Linked DNA regions of Homo sapiens. The protein of the gene in region 2 purifies or fractionates together with the protein of the main gene of each other region. This does not show direct contact. Each region holds a gene or a part of one and is shown on either strand. Other genes may lie near its edges. The genes, in order: PUDP, EPHX2 and BCAT1.

Evidence for each region.
Region 1: the proteins of EPHX2 (region 2) and PUDP fractionate together in Homo sapiens (co-fractionation; one large-scale study listed by BioGRID). This does not show direct contact.
Region 3: the proteins of EPHX2 (region 2) and BCAT1 fractionate together in Homo sapiens (co-fractionation; one large-scale study listed by BioGRID). This does not show direct contact.

Annotation. Positions count from the first base shown.
Region 1 is NC_000023.11:7,051,225-7,054,248, reverse strand, and holds part of PUDP (pseudouridine-5'-phosphatase), read left to right. Parts: intron 1-3,024. UniProt on the Homo sapiens protein: Dephosphorylates pseudouridine 5'-phosphate, a potential intermediate in rRNA degradation. Pseudouridine is then excreted intact in urine.
Region 2 is NC_000008.11:27,497,635-27,501,291, forward strand, and holds part of EPHX2 (bifunctional epoxide hydrolase 2), read left to right. Parts: intron 1-3,291; coding exon 3,292-3,376; intron 3,377-3,657. UniProt on the Homo sapiens protein: Bifunctional enzyme. The C-terminal domain has epoxide hydrolase activity and acts on epoxides (alkene oxides, oxiranes) and arene oxides. Plays a role in xenobiotic metabolism by degrading potentially toxic epoxides.
Region 3 is NC_000012.12:24,879,517-24,883,173, forward strand, and holds part of BCAT1 (branched-chain-amino-acid aminotransferase, cytosolic), read right to left. Parts: intron 1,896-3,657; coding exon 1,785-1,895; intron 1-1,784.

The DNA.
Region 1 (3,024 bases), on a different chromosome or scaffold from region 2:
TTGGTAGCGATGTGATTTTACCATGTTGGCCAGGCTGGTCTGGAACTCCTGACCTCAAGTGATCCGCGTACCTCGGCCTCCCAAAATACAGGTGTGAGCCACTGCGCCCAGCCTACGTCACCTTCTTATTGTGATTGATTGTGATAGCAACCAGTTACCAACCTTGACTTTTCGCCACTCTTCATGCTTATTCGAGTCCCCCTTACTTTATGTACGACATTTGTCTTACATGTTGTGTGTAGTATTCCAGATGTCAGTGCCATTTTGGATTATTCTTAAAAATAGGTGAGGACAGATTAATTGAACACAGAGGAACCAGCAAAACGTGAAAGCCATGAGAAACAGTAAAAAGGTCTCCAAGAGCTGGTGTCAGCTGCTCCTGCTGTCAGTGCCGCAGACACTTGCAAGTTTCCCTCCTCACTCACAGCCCTCACTTAGTTGCCTTTAAACAGGGGCTGCCTTTGAAAAGATTTCTCAGGTGTGAAGGGACACCATGGGGCCTGCATTTCCCTCCACTGCAGACCCCCTGTATTAGTCCATTTTCACACTGCTGATAAAGACATACCCAAGACTGGGTAAATTACAAAGAAAAAGAGGTTTAATGGACTCACAGTTCCACATGAATGAGGAGGCCTCACAATCATGGCAGAAGGTGAAAGGTATGTCTTGCATGGCAGCAGGCAAGAGAGAGAATAAGAGCCAAGCGAAAGGGGTTTCCCCTTATAAAACCATCAGATCTTGTGAGACTTATTCACTACCATGAGAATAGTATGGGGAAAACTGCCCCCATGATTCAATTGTCTCCCACCAGGTCCCTCCCACAACACGTGGGGATTCTGGGAGCTACATTTCAAGATGAGATTTGAGTAGGGACACAGCAAAACTGTATGACCCCCTTTAGGTGAGTGCAGGTGTATTGGGTGCCTTCCATTATCTCTTTGGGAACAGCCACAGTCAGCTACTGATTTCCCGTCCCACACACCTGTCTTGCTCCTTGGAAGCAGCCTCACGCAAATAGAGAATAAAAGCTGCTTTCACAACTTAGCCAAGCAGTGTTACCCCAGGGGATAATCCATCTCTTCCTCTACCCCAGTCCACATTTCACAGGTGGACCCTGCACAAAGCTTCAGAATCCCCGGAGAAGGTGACGGATATTTTGAAATGTCATTTGACATTTAAGTGCCTATCTCTGGTCCCAGATAAAAACAGTGGAGGGCATTTAGAATACAATCAAGTCATAACTTTTAAAAAGGCAAGGGCAGAAATATCATGAACAGGTAGTCACTGAATGAGATAACAGAGAAAACCAACTTGGACAGTCTAAGTGGAGTCATTTCTTCTCGCGTCCTACGGTGACCAGTGTCTCACAGGAGAAAGAAACCAGGGGGCATCAGAGGCTGTTGGAAGGGAGGTGTTGGGACGGACTACTGTGGCTTGCCTGGGACTGTCCAGGGTGTAGCACGGAACATCCTGCCCCACAGCTGACCCTTCAGTTCCAAGCAAACCGAAACAGCTGGGCCAACCAAGTTCCCTCTGTGAAAGTAAGGTAGCATTCACATTCCATTGTCACATGGATTAACTCACTTAATCCAGGGTTCAGCCCTGTTGGGATAAGTTGGCTAATATGATATTTTAGCCCCAGATTGAAGGAAAGAATGGGGTAATGGAAAGAAAAAGGGAGGGAGGGAAAAAGAAAAAAGTCATTGTGCTGGCTACAGCACAGACCACTAGTAGTTAAGACTGTGTGTGTGTTTCAGTGTTTTCTACTGAAAACGCCAAAGAATGCAGAGCTTCTCTTTCAGACCTGGCATCAGGCTTCCGTGAGCCCTTTCCAGGACACCAGTGCATTGAGTCGCTGCTATATACCTGGTGATGAGCCGAAGAGGACATTTTCATAATGAAAGGCAAAGGGGGCCAGGTGTGGTGGCACACACCTGTAATCCCAGCACTTTGGGAGGCCGAGGCGGGCAGATCACTTGAGTCCAGGAGTTGGAGACCAGCCTGGCCAACATGGTGAAACCCTGTCTCTACTGAAAAATACAAAAAAAAATTAGCCGGCTTGGTGATGCATGCCTGTAGTCCCAGCTGCTTGGGAGGCTGAGGCATGAGAATTGCTTGAGCCTGGGAGGTAGAGGCTGCAGTGAGCCAAGATCGCACCACTGCACTTCAGCCTGGGTGAGAGAGCAAGACTCTGTCTCACCAAAAAAAAAAAAAGAAAATGCAGAGGGACAAAGGAGACAAAGAAGAGATGAGTGGAGAGCTGAAAGGCCCCACCTCAACAACTCCTGGAGTTCTAGGCCACATGTGGAGAAGAGCAGGGGAGACTCCTCAGCATAGGTCGCCATGGCGAGGACCTCTCTTCCCTTACAGATGTCTGGGCCTCTGCAGAGTCTCAGTTAAAAAGCATCAGTACATCTGTTTTCACATGAAGTGTGTGCCATTCTAGGAATGCAGGGAAGAAGCTTCCTTCCTAAGTGTATGTCTTCCTGAGAGGGTCGGTGATATGAAGATAGCACATGTGGATTATGCTTGTTTATACTATGGAGCAGGCTCTGGGGTGTCTCCTTTGGAGGGAGCCCTCATGTGAAACTTACTGTAACATTGTCAATGTGGTGGCACCTTTAGGAGCTCACTGATAAATGCAGTGTACAAACACCCCATTTTATGTATTGGTTTTTCTTTTAGTACTTTATTTTTTTCCTTTTTAATTTTAATTTTTATTTTAATAGTCTGTAGGGTACAGGTGGCTTTTGGTTACATGGATAAGTTCTTTAGCAGTGATTTCTGAGATTTTAGCACACACGTCAACCGAACAGTGTGCACTGTACCCAGTATGTAGTCTTTTCTTCCTCACCCCGCTAGTCCCCAAAATGCATTATATAGAATTCTTATGGCTTCCCATCCTCATAGCTTAGATTCCACTTATAAGTGAGAGCATACGATATTTGGATTTCCATTCCTGAGTTACTTAGAATAATGGCCTCCAGCTCCATCCATGTTGCTGCAGAAGACATTATTTCATTC
Region 2 (3,657 bases):
GGGTAATAAACTTATCTTTTAGAATCAATTGACCCTCGAGGGAGTCAGGTGACAGGGGAGTATATTTTCTTAAGGCCTCCTGTAGCCGCTCAAGGAAGGCAGTAGGATTTTCTACCTTTTCCTGAGTTATGGTGGACATCATTGAATAATTCATGGGCTTTTTCCTAATTCTCCTTAGTCCTTCTGGAAGACAGGTCAACGGATGTTTGCGACTCCAGTCCCCATGATCTGAGTCTAGGTCCCAGTGGAGATCCATACTGGGGACGGCTTGTTGACCGGTAGGGATTTGTCCCTTTCTTTGGCTGTCATTCTGTCATTTACTTGACTAAGATACCATTTACTTGACTAAGATACCAAACTCTCAGGCTGCAGCTAAAGCCGCATTCTTTTCATTAAAGGGCAGGGTTTGATCTAACAATAGCATGACATCTCTCTAAGTGAGGTCGAAGGTTTGCCCTAGACCCTGTAGGACATCTATATACCTATCAGTATCATCTGAAAACTTCCCCAGGTCTACCTTGATCTGCTTTAAATCAGAGAGGGAGAAGGGGATATATACCCAGGTTGGGCCAAATTCCCCTCCCCCTACAGCTTGAAGGGGACATAACCGATAGCCCGGGGGTTTTATGGTCCCTTGGAGATTTCTTTGCTTGTTTCCTTCTGAGTGGGGGAGATTAGAGGAGGCTTATCATTAACAGGAAGAGGAGCTGGAGCTAGGCTAGGATATGGAGGTAAGCTCATGTTTCCAATACCAAGAATGTTCTTGTTGTATCAAGTTGCTTTTTTTTTTAATGACCACCTGCCCTTGTTTTATAGATTCAGTGGTATCTTCTTCCTGTATAGTTATATTCTTTCCCTAGTTCCTCTTCTTTTATCATCTCCCATTCTCTAAGAAGAAGAAATAATTTTCCCCTGTTTTCCCACTCACCTAGTGTCTTGTAGTTATTTGTTTATACCTTGCCTCCCTTGTTCTTCTGTGAGCTTCCTATGAATAGCATCATATTTTTCCACTTTTGCATCACAGCACATAGCACAATGCCTCACATACCTAAGATGCTCAATAGGATTGTTAAGTTGAATATTGCATTGCTTCTTAATACTGAGGAGCAGATACTGAAAGGGACCAGGAGTCTTTTGGAGGAGGTGGAAATGTTCTAAAATTGGAATGTGGTGATGCTTACACAACTGTAAATTTACTGCAAATCATTGAATTGTCATACTACATGAATTTAATGCTATGTAATTGTCTTAGTCCATTTTCTGTTGCTTACAACAGGATATCTGAAACTGGGTAATTTATAAAGAAAAGGAATTTATTTCTTGCAGTTATGGAGGCTGATAATTCCAAGGTTGAGGGGTTGCATCTGGTGAGGGCATTTTTGCTGGTAGGGACTCTCTGCAGAGTCTCAAGGTAGCACAGGGCATCATATGGTGAGGGGGCTCAGTGTGCTAGCTCAGGCCTCACTTCCACTTCTTATAAAGCCACTAGTCCCAATCCCATGATAACCCATTAACTCATTAACCCATTAGCCTATGGATGAATTAATCCATCCATGAAGGTGGAGCCCTCATGACCCAATCACTTCTTAAAGGCCCACCTCTCAATTTTAATTTAATGCCACAATGGGGATTAAATTTCAACATGAGCTTCAGAGGAGACAAACGTTCAAACCATAGCAGTAATTATACCTTAACAAAGCTGTTTAAAAAACCAACAACTGTTGGCAAAGGTATGGGAAAACCATTGCTGACATTGAAAAGTTGAGCAAGGCCACAGATATTAGGTATATGTCTCCATATAGTTGGTCCAGAGCTGACCACTGTTACCTGCAAGAGGGTGTCTGATAAAAGGTATACTTGACTATTATCAGAAATAAAGCTCCCAGGATGGGGATATTTGTTCTGTTACTCAGGGCTGGTAATTTTAACTGGCTTGCCACTTCAACTGGAATTCATCTGGGATTGGCAAGCCAGTTAAAATTACTTTCCAGACCTGAGTAATAGAACAAATGCATTCGTACACATAAATACATTTGTTCTGTTACTCAGTGTATTTATTTACTGAGGCTGCTGTAACAGCAAACAGAGACTGGATGGCAACAATGGAAATGTTTTCTCTCACAGCTCTGGAGGCTGGAAGTCCAAGATCAAGATGTCAGCAGGGTTGGTTCCTTCTGAGGCCTCTCTCCTTGGCTTGTTAACAGTGTTCTCCCTGTGTCCTCACATGGTTGACTCTCTGTGTGTGTCTGTGTCCTAATCGCCTTATAAGGGCACCAGTCCTATTGTTGGATTAGAGCCCACCTGTATGATCTTATTTAACTCAATTACCTCTTAAAGACCCACTCTCCAAATACAGTCACATCCTGAGGTATTGGAAGTTAGAACTTCAATGTATGTATTTGGGATGGGGGTATACAACCCAGCCTTAACACAGTGATATGGTTTGAATTTGTGTCCCCACCCAAATCTCCTGTCCAGTTGTAATCCCTAATGTTGGAGGAGGGGGTTGGTGGGAGGTGATTGGATCATGGGGGTGGATTTCCTCCTTGCTGTTCTCGTGATGTTGAGTGAGTTCTCATGAGATCTAGTTGTTTATAAAAGTGTGTAGCACTTACCTCTTCTCTCTCTTCCTCCTGCTCCAACCATGTAACACGTGCCTTGCTTCCCCTTCACCCTCCGCCATGATTGTGAGTTCCCTGAGGCCTCCCCAGCTATGCTTCCTCTACAGCCTGCAGAACCATGAGCCAATTAAATCTCTTTTCTTTATAAATTACCCGATCTGAGGTACGTCTTTATAGCAGTGTGAGAACAGACTAATACAGGAAACTTTTTAAAGGTTAGAAGATGACATTAAGATAAAATAGAAACTAGAGAGGCAGAATCGAAACCACAAAAAACATATTCCATTCTTTTTGAAGAAGGTGAACTCATGAAAAAGTTCTTTGAGACCATGCCTGGTGCACACGAGGACAGTAATGGCCGCGTGCCCACTCTCGGTTCTGACCGTTATATAGTAAAGTAGGAAGCGCCTCTGGGTGAAGCTGCTATTAGGTGGTTTCCCATGGGCAGCTTCTCTGTGGAACATACTGTGATTTACTGTATGGTCTCATGTCCTCAGCTGGATGGCTCCTTGCGCGCAAAGATCCCAATTTGAACTGCGTTTGCATTTTCCAGTTCCTGGCAGTATCCCTTTCTAGTGGCTGCTTCTCAATGAATATGAACAGTGTCTGTTTCCATGTGCTGCCATGACAAAATCCACAGAATGTTCCTGATGTTCTTTGTGTTTTCCAGAGGACTTCTGAATGATGCTTTCCAGAAAGGGGGACCAGAGGGTGCCACTACCCGGCTTATGAAAGGAGAGATCACACTTTCCCAGGTGAGGGGACATCACCACACAGAGCCCTTTGGATGAACGTTCTCTGCCTGTGTGCCCATCTCCCCGAACTTGGGGCCCACCATAATAGAAAACACCCACCTTTTCTGTGAAGACAAATGTTGTTTTAATGGTATTAATGGGAGTATTGCAGTCACCTTAAAACATACTTGCTAATATATTGTGGCAAATGGTGAACGAAAACTGTGATGAAACTATTGGGAAGAACATTATTGAATTATTGACTTTTTATTTAATCCATAAAAAAACCTCAGTAATATTGT
Region 3 (3,657 bases), on a different chromosome or scaffold from region 2:
AGTAAAGCTCATGAAGTCAGAATTTGTCTATTTAAATATTGACCTGTAACAGCAATAATAATGTAGTAATGTTATAGAAATTGGGACTGCCAATCATATAGGTGAACCCTGTAGCACCTGCCTCAGCCCCTGGTATTGCTGTCTAGAGACAGAATTCAGTGAGAAGAGAACTTGACCAGGAATAAAAACACCTGGATCTAATTTCTTGCCCTGTCCTTTTGCTCTTTGTGACTTCAGACAAGTCATTTAATCTCTCTGGACTCAAGTTTTCTTCTCTGTACAAAGGCACTAATAAACTGTACAACAAATAATCTTCTTAGCAACGCCTTACTGCTGTGATTACACAGATAAGGAATGTGAAACTACATAACACAGTTTGGTAGCAAAATTGATGTCTAACAAATATTACTTCCCTTTCCTTCCAGCCCCATTTTAAAGACTTTTCCCCAGTGATCTAGCTGTAATGAGAAGAAGAGCGAAACTATGCCCTAGTCCAAAGAATTTACCTTAATTTCCCCTCTGCTACTATATTATGGCCTCCAAAGGAGATGGGTGAAATGCGGGTTACAAAAATAGGCAGAGGAATGAAGAACACTTGGATTTAGCCGTCCTCAGGCTTCCTGAATGCATAGGTTGGGCTAAATCCCTGAAGCTGGGCACGGTGGCTCATGCCTGTAATCCCAGAACTTTGGGAGGCTGAGGCAGGCAGATCACTTGAGGCCAGAAGTTCAAGTCCAGCCTGGCTAACATGGTGAAATCATGTCTCCACTAAAAATAATTTTTAAAAAAATTAAGCTGGGCATGGCTGCGTGCACTTGTAATCCCAGATACTAAGGAGGCTGAGGCACAAGAATCACTTGAACCCCGGAGGTGGAGGTTGTAGTGAGCCAAGATTGTGCCACTGCACTATAGCTTGGGTGACAGAGTGAGACTCTCTCTCAAAAAAAAAATCTAACCCATCTTACAATGATTTCTGCTCCATAAGAAACATTGTGACAGCCACGATTCAATGGCCATGAGAAACCATTTTGATATCTTTTTATCTCAAAACATTACTTAAGATAAAATATCAAAATAATTAAGTTACTATATCTTGCTAGCATCTAAAGCAATTAGGCAAAATATCCGCAAAATACCTGTGCTGCACACCATATTTTCCATTTTCAATATTAATTTCATGTGGTCTTCAAATATTATTTTAGGTTGAGATACATTTTTCTTCCTTACTCTTTCATCTCTCACTTGCATATGAATCCCCCACAGACACTGATTTTAAAAAATTGTGGAATTGCCAAATGATATTATTTTCTTGGGTTTTTTGTTTTTTGTTTTTTTTTTTTACAGAGTCTCACTTTGCGGCTTAGGCTGGAGGGCAGTGATGTGATTATCTTGGCTCACTGCAGCCTCCACCTGCCAGGTTCAAGCAATTCTCATGCCTCAGCCACACCGATGGGACCACAGGCATGTGCCACCAAACCCGGCTAATTTTTGTATTTTTTGCAGAGATGGTGTTTCACCATGTTGGCCAGGCTTGTCTCCAATTCCTGGTTTCAAGTGATCCACCCACCTCAGTCTCCCAGAGTGCTGGGATTATAGGAGTGAACCACCGTGCCCGGCCATTTTCTTGTATTTTTACCTAACTAAAGTAGATCAGAAATAATGTTAATGTTCATATGGTTTGTACTGAATATTTATCTAACTATTCAGAAATTATTTATTTGGTGGTCAACACCGTGACCCGTTACATTAAAAGAAACACAAAAGAAACTCCTACACTTACATACCGGCAGAGTTGCCCTCACAGCAGAGCGATACATTCTATCCATGTTGAGGTTTGGCTGAAACAGTCGAATTTTATTATCTACTCCTCGAAATGCCTTCAATCCTTCAAATAACTGGAGATCAAAGAGAAAAAATCTTAGAGGGTAACCAAAAGAAAACAACCCGTGTTCAAGAGACTGACTTTCCTATGGGCGTTCATCTTATTCATCCCATAAAGCTGTTGACATTGACCTCAACTTGAGATCATTAAATCCAGGAAAGCTAACAGTTGACAGGACTGGTAAAAACAATGGTTGAGGTGGAGGAAAGTTATTTTATTATCAGAATTTGGTAGGAATTCCGAGTTCTCCTCTGCTTAGCAGGAGCCACACTGCTGAATAACACATTTAGGTGTTATTTAAGGGAGCAGGAAGAAAACATCTAGAATCACACAGCACAGGTTAATTCCCTAGGCAATGGAGATCGAAACCAAAGGCCTTGTGGCACCGTGGCCCCCAAAGAGTACCCCCATATCCTTTCATGTAATCTGGTTCATTTGAATGCTGGATAGTAGATAATCCAGATGTGACCAGAGCTGGTTCAGTCCCTAAATCACAGAAACCAGGCAGCTCAAGACCATACTATGTTAAGCCACGTCACCTCCCTCAATCAAAGTGCTGTCCTGAACAAACCACTGATCAGGGATTTGAAAAGACTTCAGTAGATACATACTGATAAATACAGAGAAAGACAAAAATCAATAATTTTAGTGGGAAAATTTAACACAGCTTCTCTAAGTAATTTATAGAACAAACAGGCTAAACCTTAGTAAAGATATGCAAGATATGAACAACAGGAAGAACAAACTTCCCTAACTGATACAGAGAACTCTTACACAGACCAGCTGTAGAATTCACATATTTTCCAAACACAAGATAAGCCAGAAATCAATACCAAAAGTTTGACTGGACACCATCCATATTTTGGAAAATAAATCCACCACTAACTAAACCATAGGTCACAGAAGAAAAATGGAAATTAGAAAATAAGTTAAACTGAACGATAATGAAAAGTAAGGCCTTTAAAGATGTATACCCTAAAAACTTACATGGGAAAAAAAGAAATACAAATCATGTATAATTAAAAAGCATAAAATTAGATGTTGTATTTAAGTGCAAATATATTATTAGTTTATTAAATATAACAGTACTAAAGCTTCGGTTAAAATATAAGTTTGTTAGATTGGACTCAGCTGACAATATCTGAATCAAAAAGACAGAAAAAGATATATCATGCAAATACTTTATTTTTTATTATTTATTTTTTTTTTTTGAGACAGAGTTGTTTTTCTCTGTCACCCAGGCTGAATGAAGTTCAGTGGCAAGATCTTGGCTCACTGCAACCTCTACCCCCTGGGTTCAAGCAATCCTCCCACCTCAGCCTCCAGAGTAGCTGGGACTACAGGCGCGCACCACCACGCCCAAGTTAATTTTTTGTATTTTTTGTAGAGACGAGGTTTTGCCATGTTGCCTAGGCTGGTCTCGAACTCCTGGGCTCAAGTGATGTGCCTGCCTCGGCCTCCCAAAGTGCTGGGATTACAGGCATGAGCCACTGCACCTGGCCTGCAAATACTTTCTAAAATAAAACTGGCAAGCTTCCATTACTATTTATAAAACAAAAGAATTTAAGCCAAGAAGCACTACTGAAGATAAAAAAGGCAACTTCAAGGCTGGGTGTGATGGCTCACGTCTGTAATCCCAACACGTTGGGAGGCCAAGGCTGTTGGATCACTTGAGGTCAGGAGTTCGAGACCAGCCTGGACAACATGGTGAAACCCATCTCTACCAAAAATATAAAAATGAGCCAGGCATGGTAGCATGTGCCTGTAGTCCCAGC